3 linked regions of the Homo sapiens genome follow. The protein of the gene in region 1 interacts with the protein of each later gene in a biochemical or structural test. Each region holds a gene or a part of one and is shown on either strand. Other genes may lie near its edges. The genes, in order: RND3, UBXN11 and SKP2.

Evidence for each region.
Region 2: the proteins of RND3 (region 1) and UBXN11 form a complex in vitro, tested with the Homo sapiens proteins (one study listed by BioGRID).
Region 3: the proteins of RND3 (region 1) and SKP2 form a complex in vitro, tested with the Homo sapiens proteins (one study listed by BioGRID).

The regions. Positions count from the first base shown.
Region 1 is NC_000002.12:150,484,598-150,492,470, forward strand, and holds the start of RND3 (rho-related GTP-binding protein RhoE precursor), read right to left. Parts: upstream 3,071-7,873; 5' UTR 2,952-3,070; exon of another isoform or gene 2,859-2,951; 5' UTR 2,821-2,858; coding exon 2,671-2,820; intron 2,185-2,670; coding exon 2,097-2,184; intron 1-2,096. UniProt on the Homo sapiens protein: Binds GTP but lacks intrinsic GTPase activity and is resistant to Rho-specific GTPase-activating proteins.
Region 2 is NC_000001.11:26,303,615-26,311,312, forward strand, and holds the start of UBXN11 (UBX domain-containing protein 11), read right to left. Parts: upstream 3,023-7,698; 5' UTR 2,978-3,022; intron 1-2,977. UniProt on the Homo sapiens protein: May be involved in the reorganization of actin cytoskeleton mediated by RND1, RND2 and RND3. Promotes RHOA activation mediated by GNA12 and GNA13.
Region 3 is NC_000005.10:36,162,037-36,169,139, forward strand, and holds part of SKP2 (S-phase kinase-associated protein 2), read left to right. Parts: intron 1-1,608; coding exon 1,609-1,720; intron 1,721-4,482; coding exon 4,483-4,626; intron 4,627-6,276; coding exon 6,277-6,411; intron 6,412-7,103. UniProt on the Homo sapiens protein: Substrate recognition component of a SCF (SKP1-CUL1-F-box protein) E3 ubiquitin-protein ligase complex which mediates the ubiquitination and subsequent proteasomal degradation of target proteins involved in cell cycle progression, signal transduction and transcription.

The sequences.
Region 1 (7,873 bases):
ATGCCAGATCCCCTAAGACTAAGAGCTGAAGCCAACCAACATCCTGGGAAACAAAAAGACCTGCCTGTCCAGCGTAATAAAGCCAAGAAGTGTACAGCTGGGAGAGATCCTGCACATCATCTAGCTCAGTGTCCTCTTTTTACAGATGATGAAAATGAGACCCAGGGAGATAGGGGATTTGCACACAGAAATCCATGGTAACCAGGAGCTAAGATCTAAACACAGCTTTGTATCAACGACTGGTTCAGACACACTGCTCCACCCCGTGCCAAAATAATTTTTATCGTGCATTAGGTCCAAACAGGGCTGCCGGTTGGGGCAGGGAGTACTGGTGCTTATTATCGGTACCACACCAGCTGTGCCATCCAGTAGGCATAACAAATACATACCATGATATGTCTGGGAATCAGAGCCCATTAAGTACCAGGCTGTAAAATAATTCTGATAGGAACTACTGAAATAAGGAACCACTTGAATTCTGTCTACCAACACCTTCTCCAGAGTTTCGAGTCTGTGTACCATCCCCAACAGAAAACACGGCGGCAAAGTCCTGATTCTGCTGCCCTTGGAACGGCTGAGAAAGAGCCTGACTCCAGGGGGAAACAAAATCAGCCCTTCTCACTGCAGCAGTCGGAGCATCTGGCACCGACCATGAGAGGCGCTCGCTCGTGCGAGACTTCTCGCTTGCCTTTGTGCTGGGACTGCCTCTGGCGACCCTGTCAGTCTGGTTCCTTCCTCTTGCTCTCTGAACCCCCGCGTCCCTCGGGGGCTCCAGCGGTTCAAGCCCAGCGGTTCTGTGGGAAGCTCACAGAAACACCTCCACGAGGCCACTCCCCGCTGGGCGCGGCTCCACCTCGGGGCCTCCCCGCCTAACAGCAAACCTGCTTGTTGGCACTTGCGCGTTCCTCCTCGCCAGTTTCACCCGGATTTGGCTCGGTCCGCCAGCAACCCAGCTCCTTGCTAAATTCCCAGCCCTAAGCGCAGGGGCCTTTACCCAGCCTTCCCAGTGGGTCCTGCTTTTCCATAGCCGACACCCTTCTTGGAAACAAACTCGCTAGACACCGCTGGTTAGGGCGGCGGGTGCCTATGTCCCAGCCCAAGACCTCAGATGGTGCCCCCCTGCCACTCCCCGGCCTTTGACCTGGCCTAAACCCCTAACTCAGCCGGGGGGCCGGATGCCTTCCCACCGGGAGGGTACCTAGCCCTCCCTACCACCGCGCGCCAGGTAGGTGGGTGGGCGCATGGGAAAGCAATAACCCGGCCTTGAACCTCAGACCCATGAATATAACCCACCGCGGCGCCAATAATTCAAGTAGACTGGAAGGTCAAAGGCGAATAGTGTTGCCCGCGGCCTTGGAGGCAAGCCGAGTGGGGGATGCAATAGAGGTCAGGAGGGGCTGGTGTGGTGAAGGGGAAACGGACGTGATCACTGGGATGGAGTGGGGGAAAAAGGGAAAAGCTCGGTACAGGTGGGCACCGAGGCACCGCGGGCGGCCGGCAGCGCGAAGAGGAGGTTCAGCTGCTGCCCGGCCCCTGCGCCACCAGCGCATTCCTGGGTGTAGGCGTCACGGGCGCCGCGGCTGCCTGCGCTCAGTTTCTTTCCCTCAACAGCGGCAATTGCACGTAACCGCGTCGCCTCTGGGATTTTCTCCCGCCTCCCATCACCCCCGCGGCGCTCCCCGCCTCCCCGCCAACCAGCAGGTTAGATCTAGGAGGGGCGCCCGCCTTGAGCCGGGTGGTTCCGCCGAGGCGCACGCAGCGCCCATGCAACACCCCACAGTATCGGGCCACCTCGGCCGACCCAAGGCGACTTGACCACGACTCCGCGGGCGGACTGCGCCTGGCCACTAGTGGCTCCAACCGCGGGGTCACCCTGCGGGCACACAGCGCTCTCCTCTCCCCACTGCTATCTCCTCGTCCACGCTGTCGTCTGCCGCCCCCACCCAGAAGGGATACAATTTTCGCCCAACAGGGACCGTGGGAATCCCTTGGGAGGGGCGCAGACGGCTTGTAGCGCGCGGTTTCCCGAGACCCGCCGCGCATCCCCCAGCGACTGGAAACCCGCCCCAAGCGCCACGCGGTCCTCCCACTCTTACCCGAAGTGTCCCACAGGCTCAACTCTATTCTTTGTGTGTCGATTTCAAAACTGGCCGTGTAATTCTCAAACACTGTAGGAACGTAATTCTGGATAGACAAAATGGGCAAAAGAGGAAGGAAAGAGGGCAAAGAGGTTACGTTTAAACGCACGACACCCATTGAACACCCTTCCCCTCCCCGCTCCCCAGTTAAGAAAGAAAACCTTCACACATCAGACCACACACTAAGCACATGGACCCTTTCCGAAACCCCTGTCCTACTCCCCACTCACCCCACCCGGCTCTCACAGATCTGCTGACCCGAATCTCCCAACCCCAGGTTATGCACACAGGAACGAACAAGTTTCAGGAGCTAACCAGCCCATGTGCAGGCGCGTCCCAACCCTAAAAGCTTCCAGCGCACTTTCCCTTTCCCCGCAGTCTAATCAGGGGAAAGTAGTAAGGACCGAGAAAGACTTTTTTTTTTCTTTTTTTTTTTTTTTAAGGGAAAACGGATGAAAGCGGGGAGGCCCACCTCGGGACTGGGATCCCACTGGCCGACCCCCTCGTGGAAGCCGCGGCCGGCCACACTCACCTCGGGGAAGCAGTCCTTGGCGAAGACATGGAGCAGCGCAGTTTTTCCACACTGACTGTCTCCCACCACAACTATCTTGCATTTCACGTTCTGATTAGGATCCATGATAGATTTGCTGGATAATTTCTGGCTGGCTCTTCTCTCCTTCATTGATGTTGCCTTATTTTCTCTTGGAACAGGAATTTTCTCTTAAGAAGAAAAAAAAAAATATATATATATATATATATTTCTCTCTTTATAAAAAGCAGATATAAAAATAAATCACAAGGCTGATGGGCAACCTCTGAAACGCGGCGCAGACGAGGAGGAGAGCGAGAGGAGCAGGCTGGTTACTCCCCTCCAACAAGTTTTAAGCCTGACTCCTCACCGCGCCTCCCAAGTCCAATTCCGAGCCGACTGCTTTGTTTCACGCTCTCTGCGCGGCTTTATACGCCCGGCCTTCCAATCCTCTTCTTTCTCAATGAGAGGAGGAAACTGATCTGCCTCCTCCCCTTTTATGGAGCCTGGGAGCGAGCGCTGTTGGCGTTGCATGCCGAAAATGTAAGCAGTGCGCCCTCTAGGGTGCCCATTCGGGATCTATTTTAGACCAAGGCTCTTAGACAACATGAAGATCCCAAAGATGCTTTGCTGACAAGTCCACAGGGCAAGGTGGGAAACTGGTATCTGTGCATACTGATTTGAACTACAATCCCTTTAAATATAGTTTAATAGGGGCTTATCTGTAGAAGCCTCATGAGCATTTATGAAAACAAAAACATTTCCCACCCAAGTTAAAGGACAGTGATAAAACATAGGAAGCAAATCTTGGGTGGAGAATAGTTGAGTGGTTCTATTTTTTTTTTTAATGGTTTGTATCAGGTACATAGGCCATGGACCAATAGATCAGCCTCTTTATTCCAGATGCAAGAACAGGCTTGCCTGGGTCACGGTAGTAGACTGGCTTCTGAAACCTGTCAGTTTCAGTCGTACAAGTGGAGGCAGAAAGGTTTCGAGGGGTGGGTACAGGAGGTGGGAGGGGAGAAGAAAGAGAAGTGGAAGATGCCCATGACTGAGTGACAAAGGCCATTGGAAACTCAACCCTACTGCGCTAGGGACCCAAACACTTGTCAGCTTAGTTGCACCTCCCCACATTTGCAGTGAGGGGACTGGTGGGGGGGCAGATTTTGATACTATTAATTCTTTATCTATAGCCTCCATCTTCCCGGAATCAAAGCACCCTAGACTGGACTCAGAAGGCACAAACATCTTTAGCTGAAAAATGCAGATACAACCCTCCACCCTCTCTTCTGTCCTCCTCCACATCCATCTCCCTAGCCCTCCAACTCTTCCCCGCAAGCAAAAATCTTAGAAAGGACCAGAATAGCCCGCACATTTGTTCTTTTTCTATGAGAAGTCTTTCTTTTTCTCATCTTCAGCTCCTGCACCCTAAATGCTCAGGAGGTTTCAATTGTTACAATGTAGTAGCACACTGGCCAAAACCAGCTTATATGGTCCCCTGTGGAGACTCCTAGGCTTGTAAATGAGAAGATAAGGTGAAAACAAACAAATCAGAAAGTTTAACATGGGAAGTGAAAAGGCACAATGAAGAGTTGTCAAAAGCACTGATGTAAGTAGTGGACTGGTAGGGCCCCTGAAGCCTAGGGGATCCAGGAATGATGTCCTATTTGGGGCTGAGAAAATTGGAGCCCCCTCAAAGATCATTGACTCAGACTCCATCGGTGGGTCTGTGTTTACACAAGGGGAGGGTTGACCCACAGAGAAGCGGGTTGCTGGCCCTGCTAGGGTTCCTAGAGCAGCCTTTGCCAATGTTTGTTCTTCTGAGCTTTAGTTCCCTCCTGACACAAAGGGTGCCATGGCCCAATTAGTGAGGGCGACACTGTACCCACATCACTCACTGAAGATTCGCCAAGCACACTAATGTTACAAACATTTAAAAATCCCAGAGAAAAGCAGACTATTTAACATAGTTTAACCTAGCATTTCCCAAAACTACTTAACACAGGAAACATTAATCAAATTATTCACGTTTGTTTACTTGTTTAAAGAGCAATGGGCATAGTAGTTGGGGCAGGAGATCACAAAGAGGTGTATTTGGGTCCCCAACTTCACATTTTCTGTATGACTTTGGATGGATTATTTAGCCTCTCTGAGCCTCAATTTCATCATCTGTAAAATAGGAGTCATAATGGTAATTATGAGGAAATGCAAGTGACGTTTGCAGAATGGTTTCTGGCACAATAAAGAGTCCTTGACCTGTGTTATAGTTTGCATGTAAAATCTTATTTGCACTTTTCAGAACTGTTGAATGTGTCTTGAGAAATTCTGGCTTCATTGGTGGACTCACTAATTGGAGCTGTGTCCATCCTATCTTTTGTCTTATTTTTAACTTAATGAAATTACCCCTTTCCAGAGATATGATTTGACCTCCCATATTTCAGAATTGATGTAGTTTATATGGTTAAATCACTTTAACAGAAATAATTAAGAATGTTTATGAATTGGCTGATCAATGAATAGGGTAACCACATAATTTATCATCTAAGCTGGGATTTGAGAGCAAAAGGGGCACTACCAATGATTGTGGCTGGACAACAGAGGTAAACAGGGTCTATCCCAGGCAAAACAAGATGCATAATCACTTCACCATAGAATCATCTGGAATCATAGTGGATGACTATTTTTGGAAATCAGGTGACCTGAATTTCCAGGAATCTGCCAGTTGCTGAGCAAAATTTAATGGATGTATAACAGAGTAGAAAAACCAACTGCCTGAAGTCACCAGGATTTGAATCCCTCTAGGGTAAACATTCTTCCTTTTCCTTTTTAAAATCTCTAGTGTTCAGTGTGAAGTGGATACTTAATATATTTTAAAATTCATCTAACATTTAGTTTAACAATTACTTACTCAGCATCTGCTGTAAACCAGGCACTGTTCTAGGAACTGCAGATAGAGCAGTAAACAAGACAGATCTGTTTGCTACTCTCAAAAAGCATACATTCCAGGCAGGAGATAGACAGTAAATAAAGAAGTAAGATCACCCCATGTTTTTCTTCATAGAAAACATGGCACGGCATTATTAAAGCATAGTAAGGTAGGGATCAGACCCATGGTCCAGCAGAAGGATGCTCACAGACAGTGGAAAGGTTACAGGCTGGAGGGAAAGGGCTTGGTAGGTTTGAGGAATAGAAGAAAGGCCAGAATGACTAGGGCCTGCTGAAGGAGGGAGAGTGTAGGTCGGGGAGCAAAAGGAAGCAGGCAGGGGCTGAATAATTGGCTGTAGAATTTGGATTTCATTCTCAGGGTAATGTGAAGTCAGTCATGGCAGGACTTGGAACAGGGTAGCAGCATGATTACATGAATGAATGAATGAATGAATGAATGAATGACTCCAGTTCTTCGTCTGCACTGTCACTCACTAGCTGTGAAACCTTGATGAAACTGCTCATCTTCAATGAGAATATGGGATCCAAGTATACCTAAATTCCTGGAAAAGACTAAAATTTTAGACTGCAATAAAAGGTTTTCCCCTAAGAAACACGTTCATTTAGAAAATGTGACGCCTTACCTGGGAGGATCGTATATTACCTAGCGTGCTTCCTTTTGTGATTCTTGCTTGTCTTCCTATTACTCTCTCCTTTTTCTCATTTATCCTTAAGACCAAGAGAACAGAAAACCAATAGTAAATATTTCTCTATGATTTAGTTAATAGAACACATTCAGGTGCCCTAAAAGGTTTGAGTTCAAAAATTATTTTCTTTGTGGCTAACCCTTTACTTACCAGAGGAAATCTCCCCTCCCATAGAAACTACATACCCTTTGACACAAAAAGGGCTGATTCCAGGCCTGGAGAGAGAACCAATTGAGAAAGAGTACCCATCTACTTCCCATCTAGGGATAGCACAAGACTGATAAACAATTGTTTCTGAGATTTGAGTGACTACAAGTCAGGGACTTGGGTTTTAGTCCAGGCTAAACCAATGAACTATCTGTCCTTGGGCGAACACTGACTAAATTCTTTTCCGCAGTTTCATCCTTATGTGAGGATGATAACATCTGCCTCCTTTAAGCTGCACAATAGCACTGCTTAAAAAATCACGTGCCCTGCACTTTCCAAAATTATTCTTTAGAAACACACTAAAGGCACCCCCCTTTTCATGTTCAGTGTATTTATGGAGATCTTGGCCCACAGTGGAATATTGTAAGGCATAATCCCAATAGTTTATTCACAGTCACCTGCCTCTCTTCAGACTCCAGCAGAAGTGTTTGAAGGAGCAAGTGCATAATAAGGAGGAAGCACAGGTTTCTTATAGGCATCATCAATGGAGCAGAGAGATGGCTGACATCAAAGCAAGAAAACGTGCAGGATGCCTTCATAGATGTTATGTCACAAAATATGGATATGAGTCATGGGCATTCTCTTTGAGAATTTAATAAGATGACAGATATTAAATAGTTTCAAATATAGGCATTTCAATACAAAATTAAAGACAAGCGTGTAAACTTGTAAACTGCTCTGTACTGAAAGGTGGCAATTTCACAATTGTCTCTTTTTGGGGTGGTCAGAAGAGGGTGATCACTCAGTCTTATAAAACATCAACAAAATAGAAGGCATTTTTTTTTGAAGTGAGGAATTGAGGAAAGAACATTCATACAATTTAATGGATTGAACTGGTTATTTAGGAAGAATCTGTTTTCTTGGAAGAGAATCTTTTCCTTTATTTTCTCTTAAAATTATGCCTATTTGCCCTCTCAAGGACACTGCACTAAGTTGTCTAGGCTGTGTGGTAAGAGCACTCCAGTCTGGGTTGAAACATTCAGCCTTGTTTTTTCTCATGAATGCTAACTGCGAATATGATTTAACTGCTGCTGTATTGACTTAGTCCTCACTCTTTAGCCAAGAGGAAATGACACAACTTTGTGAGTACTGAATAATAAGTCATTTTGAAATTGATCATCCCTTTCTCTGTTTATAGTTAATTTAACAAATAGTCCGTTGCATTCTTTAGAAACCCAGACCACATGATTTTGGTTCTGTGTATTATAGGGCACAAATAACCCTTTCCACCTGCCTCTTCAAATTTCAGATCTTTGATGCCTGATGCCATTTGTTTATACTTCAGTATTTCCTAAGTAAAGAAAACAAACAAAAATATAAAACTATCAGACCCATTGATTACTTTATCTACTAAACACCCAATTATA
Region 2 (7,698 bases), on another chromosome or scaffold:
AGCGAAACTCCATCTCAAAAAAAAAAAAAAAAAAAAAGACACAGTCCATGTGACACCAAGGTTAAGATGCCAGGTTTTGCCACTCACTGGAGTAACCCACCCTCAGTTTCTTTTAGTATAAAATGGGGGTCGTAATAGTACTGGCACAGGCAGGGTTCTGAGCAGATTCAGAGATAACAGAGAAGGTCTAGCCCAGCGCCAAGCTCAAAGGAAGCACTGAAAAATGTGAGTTGGGGCTGCTGTTGTTTTTGCTGTTGCTGCCACATAGGAAGCACTCGTAAATGTTAGTTTCCTTTCCTTTCCTCTTCCTTCTGGAAAAAGGAGTGCACCTGAAGGACATAATCGAAGGCTACTACTCTATTCAGTAAATGACCTCAGGTGATCCGCCCCCCTCGACCTCCCAAAGTGCTGGGATTACAGGCATGAGCCACTGCACCCAGCCTGGACCAAATTTTTTAGGACAAATCCAAGAAGTTCCACTTTGAAGATGTCTGGTTCTGGCCTCAACCCTACTTCTGAAGTCAGTCAGCAAGGGAATCTATGCTGCCTGGAGGCAGCCTCCAATGCCTTCACTGCAGAGTTTGAGAATCATGCCCTGCCCCTTCCTTGGAAGGAGCCCTCCTCAAGGATCAGGCCCAGAGTTTCTTCACCCCCAGCATCCAGCCTCCCAAATCTGTCCCCACCCTGCCCCAGCCCCTGCCCTGTCTGGGCAGCCTCACGGGTTGTATGGCCAAGGCTCCCTTCATTAGTTCCCATGTGCTACCAGAGAGATCTTAAAACATAAAGCAGGCCGGGAGCGGTGGCTCATGCCTATAATCCCAGCACTTCTCACCCACAGAAAAAAATTCAAAATTCTGGCCAGGCACGGTGGCTTACACCTATAATCCCAACACTTTGGGAGGCCGAGGAGGGTGGATCACCTAAGGTCAGGAGTTCAAGACCAGCCTGACCAACGTGGCAAAACCCCATCTCTACTAAAAATACAAAAATTAGCCGGGCTTGGTGGCAGGCACCTGTAATCCCAGCTACTTGGGAGGCCGAGGCAGAAGAATTGCTTGAACCCAGGAGGCGGAGGTTGCAGTGAGCAGAGATTGCGCCATTGCACTCCAGCCTGGGTGACAGAGCAAGACTCCATCTCAAAAAAAAATTCATAATTCCTTGATATAGGTGACCTGGTCCCTGCTTATGTCTCCTGACCTCATCTCCCATCTTGCCGCCTCCCACACTTGAGCCACCTCAACTTCTAGCAATGCCTCAAATGCATGTGTATCCCCCCTGCCTCAACCTCAATCCCCCCACTCCCAGAACGGTCTCCCCACTCCTACCTGCACCCTTCCCTTGGCCAGCTAACTCTTTTTTTTCCCCTTCAGTTTGTTTTTCACTTATATTTTAGCTTTTTATTTGAAAATTATTATAGATTCACAGGAAATTAGGAAAATAGTACAGAAAGATCCTTTGTATCCTTCACCCAGCTCCCCTCAATACTTTTTTTGTTTTGTTTTTTGAGATGGAGTCTCGCTCTGTCGCCCAGGCTGGAGAGCAATGGCGCAATCTCGGCTCACTGCAACCTCCGCCTCCCAGGTTCAAGCAATTCTCCTGCCTCAGCCTCCCAAAGTGCTAGGATTACCGGCGTGAGCCACCCCACCTGGCCCATCTCTATAATTTTCTTACTTCAAAAAAGTTACACAAATGGAATTATACAGTATGCAACCTTTTTCATAAAACAGCTTTGAGATATAATTCACATATTTCACCTTCTTACAGTGTAATTTTCTTTTTAGTATATTCACAGAGCTGTACTACCATCACAATTTTAGAACATTTTCGTCAGCCTAAACAAACCCTGTACCCTTTGGCAGTCACCCCCAATTTACCCTCCAGCCCCCACCCCTTTTCCAAGGCAGCCTTAGGCAACCACAAATCTACTTTCTGTTCTATAGACTTGCCCACACTGCACATTTCATATAAATGGAATATATACTAAAATATACTAAAAATTGAAATTTACACTTTAAAGGAGTGAAGTATGTAATACGTGAATTATATCTCAATAAAGCTGTCATGGGAAAAAAAAACAAAACTCCTAAACCAAATCCAACATTTTCGTCAAACTCACTTCCTCCCACTTCCCCCTTCTTAATGGGACCCCATCACCCAACCACATTTTTTCTCTCCTTCCTTCCCTCTTACGCCATCTTGCCTCTTACATCAAACCCTGCAGGCTAAACTCTCTCACATATAGCTGCCCCTTTCCATGGCCACCGTCGGCCGTCCTAGTGGGACTCTCACTGCCCATTCTGGGGGCTGTCACATGGCTCCCAACTGACTTCCCTACTTCCAGTGTCACTCCAGTCCAGTCCGACACATTGTCTCCAGGTTAATCTTCTCCCAGATTACAAGGGCCCCTGAAGGCAAAGGCTGCATTTCCCTGTCCGTTTGGGGGGACTCCTGAGGGCAGGGGCATATCTCTTTCTCCTTCAGATTAGGGAGCCCTGAGGACAGTCGCCTAACTCCTTCACTTTGGGGCTTCCAAGGGCAGGACTGTGACTACCCCTCAGGCCAAAAGGTCCTTAAGGCAGAGTTGTCACCCACTTCAGACCTGGCTCTGAGAGCAAATCTCTGCACCATGCCTCTACATCTTTGGAACCAAACTCAGTGCTGTGCTTGACTCACAACATTCTTCTTCACACCTCCTCGGCCTCTCCGTCATCCCCAGAGCCCAGAGCTCTGGCGGGGACACGGTCCGGCCCGCTGCCAGGACTCCCTAATGCCCCCAGGACGCGCTCAGGGAGCGACGTCTATCACGATCTAACCCAGCCCTGGAGGCCGTGTCGCCTCCTTCCGCCTCCACGCGTAGTCATGGTAAGCAGGGTCTTGAACCTCTCCTGTGGGAGCCGCGGAGCTCGCAGGCCCTCGGGGCTCGGGCTCCAGCCTGCGTGGGGACTCCAGGGGCAGAAAGGTCTTAAGCCAGACTCACCACGCAGGGCCGCTAGCCGTCCCGCAGCGCCGCCATCTTGTTGTCACGCGGTTTCCTAGGCGACCAGGACCCGTGCACTTCTCATTGGCTAGTTTGAGGGAGGCCTGAGCAACCTGCAGACAGCGAAGGTGGATACAGTCGCCTGTGCTCGGATTCTATTGGCCCACAGAGTCGGTATTCTTCGCGGGCGAATCCCAGAATGCACCGCTCTGAGAGGGCTCCAGGTCCGGGGCGGGGTGGGGGGGGGGGGTGGTTCGTTCCTACCCTCAGGTGCGGGAGGAAGGAGCCTGGGATTAGGTTAATGAAACTGCTGGCAGCCTCACATTCAGGACCTGAATGTGTGATCCCGACAGTGCCGCTATTTTGCTAAATTGATCTTGGGAGGAATTATCCCTCTTAGCTTATTTCCCCATATGATCAGTATTGTAACACGAAGTACTGTAATACTTCACGGAGGCTGCTTTGAGGATGGATTGCAATGATGCAAGTACTTAATAAATGTTTCCTAAATCTGAGTTTCTGTGACAAATCCTTGACCAGATTGGCGCCCGGAAGGGCGGCCCAAATTCTAGTTCCCTTGTGTTAAGAGTTGGGTAAGACAATTTCCCCTCCCAGAGCCTCATCTGTAAAATTGTGTTGGATTAGACTCAGTCACCAAAACAGCTAAAGGCAGTTAAGACCACGAACTTTGGAATTAGGAGTCCTGGCTCCTTACTGTGTGTTCTTGGGCACTTTATACACCTTAGTTTTTATATCTGTAAAACAGTGATAATACCTACCCCCACTGGGTTGCCGTGAGGATTAAATAAGGTAATGCAAAGTACACGATTTTAAAGGGGAAAGCCGAAACAGAAACACCTGTAGAGAGCACTTTTTCAAAAACGTTTCCTGCTGTTAATCATCATCATCATCTCTTCACCCTTTCAGCTGTGATGGTCTGGGAGTTTATGATTTCTGATCTCAGGCACTCACTTCTTTGTGCCCAGGTTCAAAAGCCCTTTCTCTGCACAACCCAAGAGTGTTTTTCTGTTGCTTTTTTTTTTTTTTTTTTTTAATTTTCCGTTTGACTTTCTAGCCTACCACATTCAGGGAAGGGTAGGCTCTGCTCACTGCAACATCCGCCTCCCAGGCTCAAGCTATCCTCCCATCACAGCCACCAGTGTAGCTGGGACTACAGGTGTGCACAACAACGCCCAGCTAGTTTTTGTATTTTCTTGTAGAGACGGGGTCTTGCCATGTTGCCCAGCCTGGTCTCAAACTCCTGAGCTCAAGCCATCCGCCCATCTCTGCCTCCCAAAGTGGACAGCATTCTTTATATGCAAATTGGAAGCTAAAGAGAGCTACTACTACTGAGTGCCAAGTACCAGATGGTAACATGAAATTTACAGATGAGGGCCGGGCGTGGTGGTTCACGCCTGTAATCCCAGCATTTTGGGAGGCTGAGGCAGGCGGATCATCTGAAGTCGGGAGTTCGAGACCAGCCTGACCAACATGGAGAAACCCCGTCTCTACTAAAAATACAAAATCAGCCGGGCATGATGGCGCATGCCTGTAATCCCAGCTACTCAGGAAGGCTGAGGCAGGAGAATCGCTTGAACCTGGGAGGCGGAGGTTGCGGTGAGCTGAGATCGCACCATTGCACTCCAGCCTGGGCAACAAGAGTGAAACTCTGTCAAAAAAAAAAAAAAGAAAAGAAAAGAAAAAAGAAAAAAACAGATGAGAAAACAAGCTCAGGGTAGTACAGCGGCTTGCATAAGATTATAAAGGCAGGAAGCAGAAGTGGATTCAAACCCAGAACGGTCAGCCTCAAGAGTCCACGCTCTTCCTAGAAACTTTCACTCTGGTAAACAAGGCAGGCATAGATAAGCCAAGGAAGAAGGTGGTACAGACCTACTGCCAAGGGAGGAGTCTGGGCGGAAAGTGTGACTGGAGAGTGGACATAGGAAGAGCTCTCTTGTTGCTGAGCTGCTCCCAGAAAGTTTTCTGAGGTTTTAGGTATATGAAGATGAGAAAGACTGAGATCATGTCGGGGCCAAGTGTTTTTTGAGGTTGGACCCATGGTCAGGGTGAGTAGCAACTTCATACTGTCACCTTGCTCATGGAGATAAGCAAGCGTGGGAAGCAGGAGCTCTGGTCTCATGAGCCCTGCTGTGGTCTGCCCTCTGATTCCTGCCTCAGCAAGAACCAGATCGTGAGTGGCATTTACCCAGGCACCAGGATTTACCCCATCCCTTCTTCCCACCCAGGGCCTGGCTGTAGATTCCGCAGCAGGCAGACACTCAGTAAACATCTATTTCCTGGGAGGAAAATGGGAGCCCTCTAACCTGGCAGGCCAGTCGTTTGATTTTTTTTTTTTTTTTTTTTTTGAGTCTTGCTCTGTCACCAGGCTGGAGTGCAGTGGCACGATCGTGGCTCGCCACAACCTCCACCTCCCAGATTCAAGCGATTCTCCAGCCTCAGCCTCCCAAGTAGCTGGGACTACAGGCACACGCCACCATGCCCAGCTAATTTTTTTGTATTTTTAGTAGAGACGGGGTTTCACGATGTTGGCCAGTGTGGTCTCCGTCTCCTGACCTTGTGATCCGCCCACCTCAGCCTCCCAAAGTGCTGGGATTACAGGCGTGAGCCACTGCGCCCTGTCCCGAGTCAATTGATTTTTTTTTTTTTTGAGACAGAGTCTCACTCTGTCGCCAGGCTGGAGTGCAGTGGTGTGATCTCAGCTCACTGCAATCTCCAACTCTCTGGTTCGAGCAATTCTCCTGCCTCAGCCTCTGAGTAGCTGGGATTACAGGCAAGTGCCACCACCCCCAGCTAATTTTTGTATTTTTAGTAGAGATGGGGTTTCACCATGCTGGCCAGGATGGTCTCTATCTCCTGACCTCATGATCTACCCGCCTCAGCCTCCCAAAGTGCTGGGATTACAGGTGTGAGCCACCGTGCCCTTCTGGTTTGATTTTTTTTAAAAAAATAACATTTATTGGGAAAGTCAGAGCCTTATTATAAAAATATACAATTTCACTGGAGAAACTTGGAAAATAATAAGAGCCATCATTTGTTGGGGATACATTGTACTGTGGACCAGCATAACTTAACAACTCTATGAGGCTGGGCTCTGTCGTTTAATAGCTGGCTGTTCCTGCTCAAGATACTTCACTTGTCAGAGTCTCAGTGTCTACAAATGTAAAGTAGAGATACTAATAGAATCTACCTCCTAGGATTATTGTACAAATTAAATTTTCCATAATGAGGCACCGGCCCCAGCATGAGTGGGGACAACAGCTGAAAAAAATATATACACTATTTTAAAAATTCCTATAATGTTGTTGCATTATTGCTCCTGAAAAGGTGTTCTTCTTTTCTTTCTTTGCTCATTTATTTATTTTTAGAGACAGACTCTGTCTATGTTGCCCAGGTTGGATTTGAACTCCTGAGCTCAAGGGATCCTCCAGTCTCGGCCTCTCAGCCTACCAAGTAGCAGAGACTATACCCTCTTGCCACTGTGCCCGGCCCAAAAAGGAGGAGTTTTTGGCTGGGCACAGTGGTTCACACCTGTAATCCCAACATTTTGGGAGGCCGAGGTGGGTGAATCACCTGAGATCAGGAGTTCGAGACCAGCCTGGCCAACATGACGAAACCCTGTCTCTACTAAAAAATACAAAAACTAGGCCAGGAGCAGTGGCTCATGCCTGTAATCCCAGCACTTTGGGAGGCTGAGGTGGGTGGATCACCTAAGGTCAGGAGTTTGAGACCAGCCTGGCCAACATGGTGAAACCCCATCTCTACTAAAAATACAAAAATCAGCCAGGTGTGGTGGCATGCGCCTATAATCCCAGCTACTTTGGAGGCTAAAGCAGGAGAATCACTTGAACCCAGCAGTCGGAGGTTACAGTGAGCCAAGGTCGCATCACTGCACTCCAGCCTGGGCAACAAGAGCAAGACTCCATCTCAAAAAAAAAAAGAAAGAAAGAAAAGAAAGAAATACAAAAATTAGCAGGGCATGGTGGCGGTCGCCTGTAATCCCAGCTACTCGGGAGGCTAAGGCAGGAGAATTGCTTGAACCTGGGAGGCTGAGGTTGCAGTGAGCCAAGATTGCGCCACTGCACTCCAGCCTGGGCGACAGTGCCAGACTCTGTCTTAAAAAAAAAAAAAAAAAAAAAGGTGTTTTTTCAAAAACAAAATTATAAAAGAAACCAAGAGTCTAAGCTCATCTGATTTTTTTTTTTTAACCTATATTTCTCTTCCCACATCTTAGAAGGTCTGGAAATCTCTGAGGTCTCCAGGCTCACAAGACTTGAGTGTTGTGAGGGCCTTGGAGACCCATCCGACCACTTCCAAGCTGGAAGGATTCCCTCTGGACTTCTGAGATGGGGTCGCCCAGCCTCATCTTGATCGCATCCAGTGGTGGATATTCAGTCTGATGATGGTGCAAAGGCCCTGGCCTGGGAGGAGGGAGGTCTTGAACAAGGCTCTTTCTGGACCTGTTTCCCACCTGCAGGGTGAGGAAGTAGACCCCAGCTCTGGGGCTAGATGGTTCTGGAAGTCTCTATTCTTTTTTTTTTTTTTTTTGAGACAGAATCTCACTCTGTTTTCCAGGCTGGAGTGCAGTGACGTGATCTCAGCTCACTGCAAACTCCAGCTCCCAGGTTCAAGCGATTCTCTGCCTCAGCCTCCCGAGTAGCTGCGATTACAGGTGCCCACCACCATGCCCAGCTAATGTTTTT
Region 3 (7,103 bases), on another chromosome or scaffold:
AGATTGCTTCTATGAAAGAAAACTGCGCTTCCTGCATCCACCTTTCTGTTCTAAACACAGCAGCCAGAGTGATCCTTTTTGAACTTACGTGAGGGCCTGTCATTCCTGTGCTCAGAATCTTCTAGTGGTGCCTCATAGAATTCAGCGTCAAAGCCAAAGGCTTTATCATGACCTAGGAAGCCTGCATGACCTGGCTGCTCTCTGATTTTTCTACCCACCTACCTCTGCGCTCTACACTGGCCTCCTTGCTATGCCTCAAACACACATGCTGTTCCTTGGATCTAGAACACGTACACCAGATACTCACAGGGCTCACTCCCTCACTTTGTTCAAGCCTTTGCTTAGTGATCGTCATCTCAGTATGGCCTTCCCTGACCACCATGTTCAAACTTAATAACATCTGCTCTGAACTCTCTGTTCTCTCCCTTGCCCTGTTTAATTTTTCTGCACAGCACAGATCAATTTTACTATATCATATAATGTACTTATTTTTTGATGTGTGATTATCTGTTCCGCATTACTGGAATGAAGTCCCACGAAGGTAGTGTTTTGGGTCTGATTTACTACTCCTTCCCAACACCTAAAATGATACCTGGCACCATAGTAGGAGCTCAGTAAATATTTGTTGAATTAAGAAATGACAATACCCTTTTGTATTGCTCTTTTAGGTAAACTGTGCCTTTTGTAAACCTGAAAGAAAGCATATTAGTCTGTTCTCATGTTGTTAATAAAGACATACCCAAGACTGGGTAATTCATAAAGGAAAGAGGTTTAATTGACTCACAGTTCAGCCTGGCTGGGGAGGCCTCAGGAAACGTACAAGCTTGGTGGAAGGGGAAGCAAACGTCCTTCTCCACATGGCGGCATCAAGTGCAGAGCAAAGGGGTCGGGGAAGCCACTTGTAAAACCATAAGATCTTGTGGGAACTCACTTATCACCAGAACAGCATCAAATTACAGGGGCGGTTATCACCAGGTAACCGTCCCCATGATTTGATTACCTCCCACTGGGTCCCTCCCGCAACACATGGGGATTATGGGAACTACAATTCAAGATGAGATTTGGGTGGGGACACAGCCAACCATAGCAGAAAGGGAAGAAGATTTATTTGCCTTTTAAATAAGGTCACTACTGAGTCCACATCAGAGAGAAACAAGGCCTTCCTTTGCACCCAGAAGCACCACAATATCTTATTGATGTCAATGAATTGACAATGTCATTGAATGACATTTGAGAGGGTGGGACTTGCTCTGTACCACTCTTCATGCCACAGCCTCCGATTGGCTGGCTAGAGCTGAAGGGAAGAATAGGAAAAGTGTTCTGGGTTTCTCTTTTTGATTTGCTGAGAGAGTGTGGTGGTCACTTCAGGGTACATAGATGATGGAATGGGGAATTTAACACGAATTAAATTACTCATCACCACAATTATTTTTCTGTTCAACAGAAATGATTTTTCAAACAAAAATAATTGTGAGGATGAGTAATTTAATTTGTGCTAAATTCCTCATTTAAGCTAAATGTTGTATATTCTTTATGTGTTTGAAAAGACTCAGTAGACTTGATAGGGTGAAAGAATGGTGATGGCAAACACTTGTTTTCCCTCCAAAGGTGTTTCATGGGACTCCCTTCCGGATGAGCTGCTCTTGGGAATCTTTTCCTGTCTGTGCCTCCCTGAGCTGCTAAAGGTCTCTGGTGTTTGTAAGAGGTGGTATCGCCTAGCGTAAGTATTTTTCACCCCTTTGGCAAACGTAGGGGAGGAAGAGGAGAGGAAGGTTATTTATTCGTTTTGGTCTGATGAAACTAAAAACCAAGAAAAATAGAGCAGCGCAAAGCAAACTAGGTATCTTCATATTTTTATTAATCAGTGTCCTCATTTCACAGTGGAAGAGGAATTTCCTGGGAGGGATAAACTTACCAATGTCTGGAAACCTCTTTGCCCTGTATTCAGTGCAGCATGTGTTTATGGGATGCTGACTGTAGGCCAGGCGGTGTGCTTTAAGTGCGGAGAGAGTTACAGAGGTGCATGCAGACAGCGGTTCCTCACGCCGCTGGGCTGAGCAGTGAGCACAATAGGGAGAGGGAACACAGGCTTGGTGTTAGACCCGAGTGCACACCCAGCCTCTGCTGCTTACGCTCTGCATGACCTGAGTGAGTTAGTTGACACTGCTGAGCCTCAGTCTCCCCATATGTAAATGGGGATAATGGTTATGAGGAGGAAACCACTGGTTATGAGGATGAAATGTGAAGATGCTGGTGTAATGCCTGACTCACAGACATGTTCCACACAGAGTAGCCATTGGTGGGGTTGTGCTCTTTTTTTGGCAACACTTTTCAAGTGTGGAAGGTGAGTTGCATGTGGAAAGACTTGGTGAGCTGGAAAGGCAATAACAGGCCTGGAGCAAGAAAAAGGCTATGTTTATCAACTGGAACTTTTTACTATCTTCATGCCTTCTCATCCCTATCCTACCTCCTGGTCATTCTTTGCTTTGTGTTTAAAGGCCATCCGTCTGGCTTCTCCCTCCACATACTTAGAACTCCCTGTGTGAGATAGCAGGAGCCTCTTGCCTTCAAGGGCGTGCTGCTATTTACAGGTGTGGGTTGTTTGCTTAGAAGAGCCGCAGAGAGGGTTGCACACCTGGAATGCTGGTGCAAGTGGCAGGCAAGTTTCACTTACCCTCACCGCACTCAACCCCACTTTGGTTTTCTTTTTCTGCCAGCTATGCATTTATCCTCTTCTTGCAGAGTCTGTTAATCCCATTTTAAAATTTTATTGTATATATTTAAGGTATACAGCATGATATTTTGTTATAAGTATGTGAAATGGCTGCTATCATTAACATATTCATTATCTCACATAGTTACCTATTTTTTGTGGCAAAAGCACCTAAAATTTACTCTTTTAGCAAACATTCTGACTACAATACAGTATTATCGACTCTAGTTCTCCTGTTGTATACTATATCTTGGGATGTGTTCATCCTGCATATCTGTGGCTTTGTATTCTTTGACCTACATCTCCCTTAGAGTCTGTTAAACTTCATCTCAGTTGTCATAAAAGTAATTACTGACATTTATTAAGCACTTGCTTTGTGACAGGTGCAGTGTTTGCAATTTAATCCTCCATATGATTTTAAGTGATGGTGTTTGTGTCATCTCAGCTTCAGAGGTGAGGAAACTGCAGGGTCAGGAATAGTAGGTTGAGAGATAAGTGGAAAGGCAGGAATCTAAAGTTTGGCTAACTCCACGGTCTTAACCATCATACCATATCTAGTTATGCTTGGCTTAGGGTTCAGGTAGCTCCCAAATTCATTTTTCTGTGAGGTGTTCATCTTCCTAAAAAATGTATATTATTTGGAAAGAAAATGAATTGTTCCAAAACTTCTCCCAGGTTGTTGTTATTGAATGCTGGTTAAGCTATAGTTTGCCTTCTTGCAAGAGGAAACATCAAGCATGAGATTCAAGACAACCAGAGCAGTGCTGATCTGGTGTCAATACCAATACCTTGGAGGCCAAAATGGATTTCTGTCTGGGCAAGAAAGATACAAAAGTGTGCCACTCTCTTAAGGATATCTTATCTACAGTCCACCTTTTTAATGATAGATTTGTCACACAAATCACACTGACAATTTTTTTATGATGAAGTTATTTCATAACTCTGGCCAGTGGTCCACTTATTTCAAGCACTATTAAAAAAGAAAATTCTAGTACACCTAAGCATTTAAAATGTTCCTTCATGTGCTTATATTTCACATTTTCTTTTTTTAAATTGAATTAAACTATGGATATTAAAACCCTCTTACTGTGCTATTCAGTACGTTTTTAGAACATCCCTTTTGTTTTAGAAACACCATCTATAATCCGTTGTATTTTTCCCTTATTTCACATTAGTTCATACACACACATATGTACACATACATATACACGTGTATGTTTTAAGCTTCAAATATATTATAAGGCACAGCTGAACCATGACTGTTGCTATTGAATATCTATGACAGCCTTATTTCATAATAAAATAATGCTAACTTTCGTTCCTTTAGTAATTTTCCATGTTGCTACAGTAATCATAATTGCTTGACAAAAGTGTCAAATAGATTTAAAACTTCTTAGAGGATCCTATTTGCCTAGTAATATAATAATTAATTGATTTGAGCAATCATTTTTTAAATTTGTCAACTTGAATGCTGGAATATGATTCTCTGGTTCTAGATCACGGCAGTGCTAATGTTCACATTGAACCATCTAAATTGGAAGTATATAGAAAGAGAAAGATGGAAGCTTATCCCTGGTGAAATCAAGAAAAATTCTCTAGTGCCTTAAAAATATCATAGCTAATTGTATAGCCAACTTAAAAACAAAAGTTCTTTTAGAATATGCTTCAAGGAGATTTAGCAGCAGTGTCCTACCTGTTAGTAATGTTGTTGAGGGCTTCCAGCATTTAGTGTGACCGACTGGCCAAATTAAGTATCTCCTCTTTTATAGGTCTGATGAGTCTCTATGGCAGACCTTAGACCTCACAGGTAAAAATCTGCACCCGGATGTGACTGGTCGGTTGCTGTCTCAAGGGGTGATTGCCTTCCGCTGCCCACGATCATTTATGGACCAACCATTGGCTGAACATTTCAGGTAAAGATGAAAAATCCCTGGAAAAGACTATTTCTAAATTTCGAGGTAGAAACAGATCAAAGCTTTTTTTTTTTTTTTCTTTCTTCAGCCTTAAAGCCTATGGTAGGTTATCTGTGCAGTGTGGGATGTTAATTCCATACTTTGCTATGGGGCCTTTGTGCTAAAACCTAGCATAGATTTCAATGACACTGTTCCCATTTCACTCAAGTTTACTGTTAGTCTCTTCCCAGGGTGAAAGAGGCACATTTGTCTTCTCAAGTCCTCAGCTGATAGGGGGACTGTGAGTCCCACAAGGCAGGCACAAGTAAAGCACTCACTGGCAGATGCAAGGGTGCCCAGTTACTTCCCCAATGCCCATTTCTGATAAATAAAAAAAAGTGAGGAGTCTTTTCATGTTTGTAGCTTGGGGTTTATGATTTTTGTCTTGGAGAAATTTGGAACCTGAAAAAAATGCCCTCTTTTTGTTTGTTTTGTAGAATATTTTGAAAAAGAATTTTCTGTTCTGATAATTTTGCAATACTGAGGTTACTGCTATCACATAGTAGAATAACTAGGTACTGAACAGAAAAACAAGCTGAAGACAACAAAGCTAAAGATAAAACATGTCTCCTGACTCCAGTACTTTTTCCCTTCTTTCCGTAGTCAGGACCGCCTCTCCCACTGCTTTTTATCCTGTTCCTCCTGTGGCTGTTCCTTCTCAGTCTCCTTCACATATGTGATTTCCTCTGTTCACTCCAGGGTCGGTTCCTGGCTGCCACCTTTTTCAAATCCAAATGCTGTCCCTGGACAAGCTGTGTCCTCTACACCCACATTTATGCCCAGGACTCTCAGTTCCTCATCTATAGCTTGGCCCTCCCTTTCAAATTCCCAAATTTCTAATTACCTAAAAACGTCTGTACCTGAATTTCTTACAAGGACTTCAATATTAGCATAACTCAAATTTGGCCTCCCTTTTTTTTTATTGTTTTTGTTTTTTGAGACGGAGTCTTGCTGTGTCACCCAGGCTGGAGTGCAGTGGCGTGATCTCGGCTCATTGCAACCTCTGCCTGCCAGGTTCAAGCAATTCTGCCTCAGCCTCTCGAGCACCTGGGGACTACAGGTGTGCGCCACCACGCCCAACTAATTTTTTGTATTTTTAGTAGAGACTGGGTTTCACCATGCTGGCCAGGCTGGTCTTGATATCCTGACATCGTGATCCACTGGACTCAGCCTTTCAAAGTGTTGTGATTACAGGCGTGAGCCACTGCGCCCAGCCTGGTCTCCCTTTAAAACTTTCTCTTCCGCTACCTTCCCTGTTCTATTGCTGCTCACCCACTCACCCCTGCCAGAAACCAGGAGCCGTTATGGTCTTAATCTCCTTGTCACCCACATCCAGCTCATTGTTGTGATGCCCACTCGTTATTTTCTAAGTGGGACTATATTGGCAGCAACATCTGTACTTGGCAAAAATCCTCTTGCATTTTAAAATGAATGAAGATGGGAATACACTAGTAGCAATATGTTTTATGACCCTATAGTTAATGCTTGAAGTATGTATTTAGAGTCTTGTTTGTGATTGGCTGCTCATTTGGGGAGAAGAGGGGTCTGGTTTGAAATTGGATGTACCCGTGAGAGCCACCTATGGAGCTCCTTTTTTCTCTCCGTGTTTAGCCCTTTTCGTGTACAGCACATGGACCTATCGAACTCAGTTATAGAAGTGTCCACCCTCCACGGCATACTGTCTCAGTGTTCCAAGTTGCAGAATCTAAGCCTGGAAGGCCTGCGGCTTTCGGATCCCATTGTCAAGTGAGTGGCAGGCAGAGTGTCACAAAGGCAGTTGATTTTATGTGTATGAATTTTTTTCCCTGTATATAACTGGGGTGCCCTTCTAGCCATATCCAGGTGGATACAGAAAATATCTAGTGCAGTGCTCTAGCTTCTGCAAAACTTTTCAGGACTCATTGAAGCAACAAAAGCTTGAATGCTAACTATATGCCAGGCCCTGTGCTAGGTTCTAGAGATACAAGTACAAGGATGAACAATGCATGTGTATTATTTGGGAAGAAAATGAATGCTCTAAAACTTTTCCCACCTTGTTAGTGAATGCTGGTTAAGCTATAGTTTACCTTCTTGCAAGAGGAAACATTGAGCAAGACATGTCTATTTTCTCTTGCAAGAAGGTAAACTATTTATGAGCAAGACAGATAATTACCATGCAGTGTGTTTATTAAATGTTTCAGTGAATATGTGGCAACACACGAGGAGCCGCCTTGTTAGAGGAAGTGACTCTTGAGTATTGAAGATATCTAGGTAGGAGATCTCTAGGTAATAAGACAAAGCAACCAGTCTAGGTAAAACTTCCTGTGTGGTTCTAAACTCTTACGTAGTTGGAAGTTGCTGGAGCACAGGACTAAGGGAGGAGAGTGACAAGGTGAGGAGAGTCAGGGACCAGATTGTAATGGGCCCCTACGCCTTGCTGTAAGAAGAATGGACTGGAC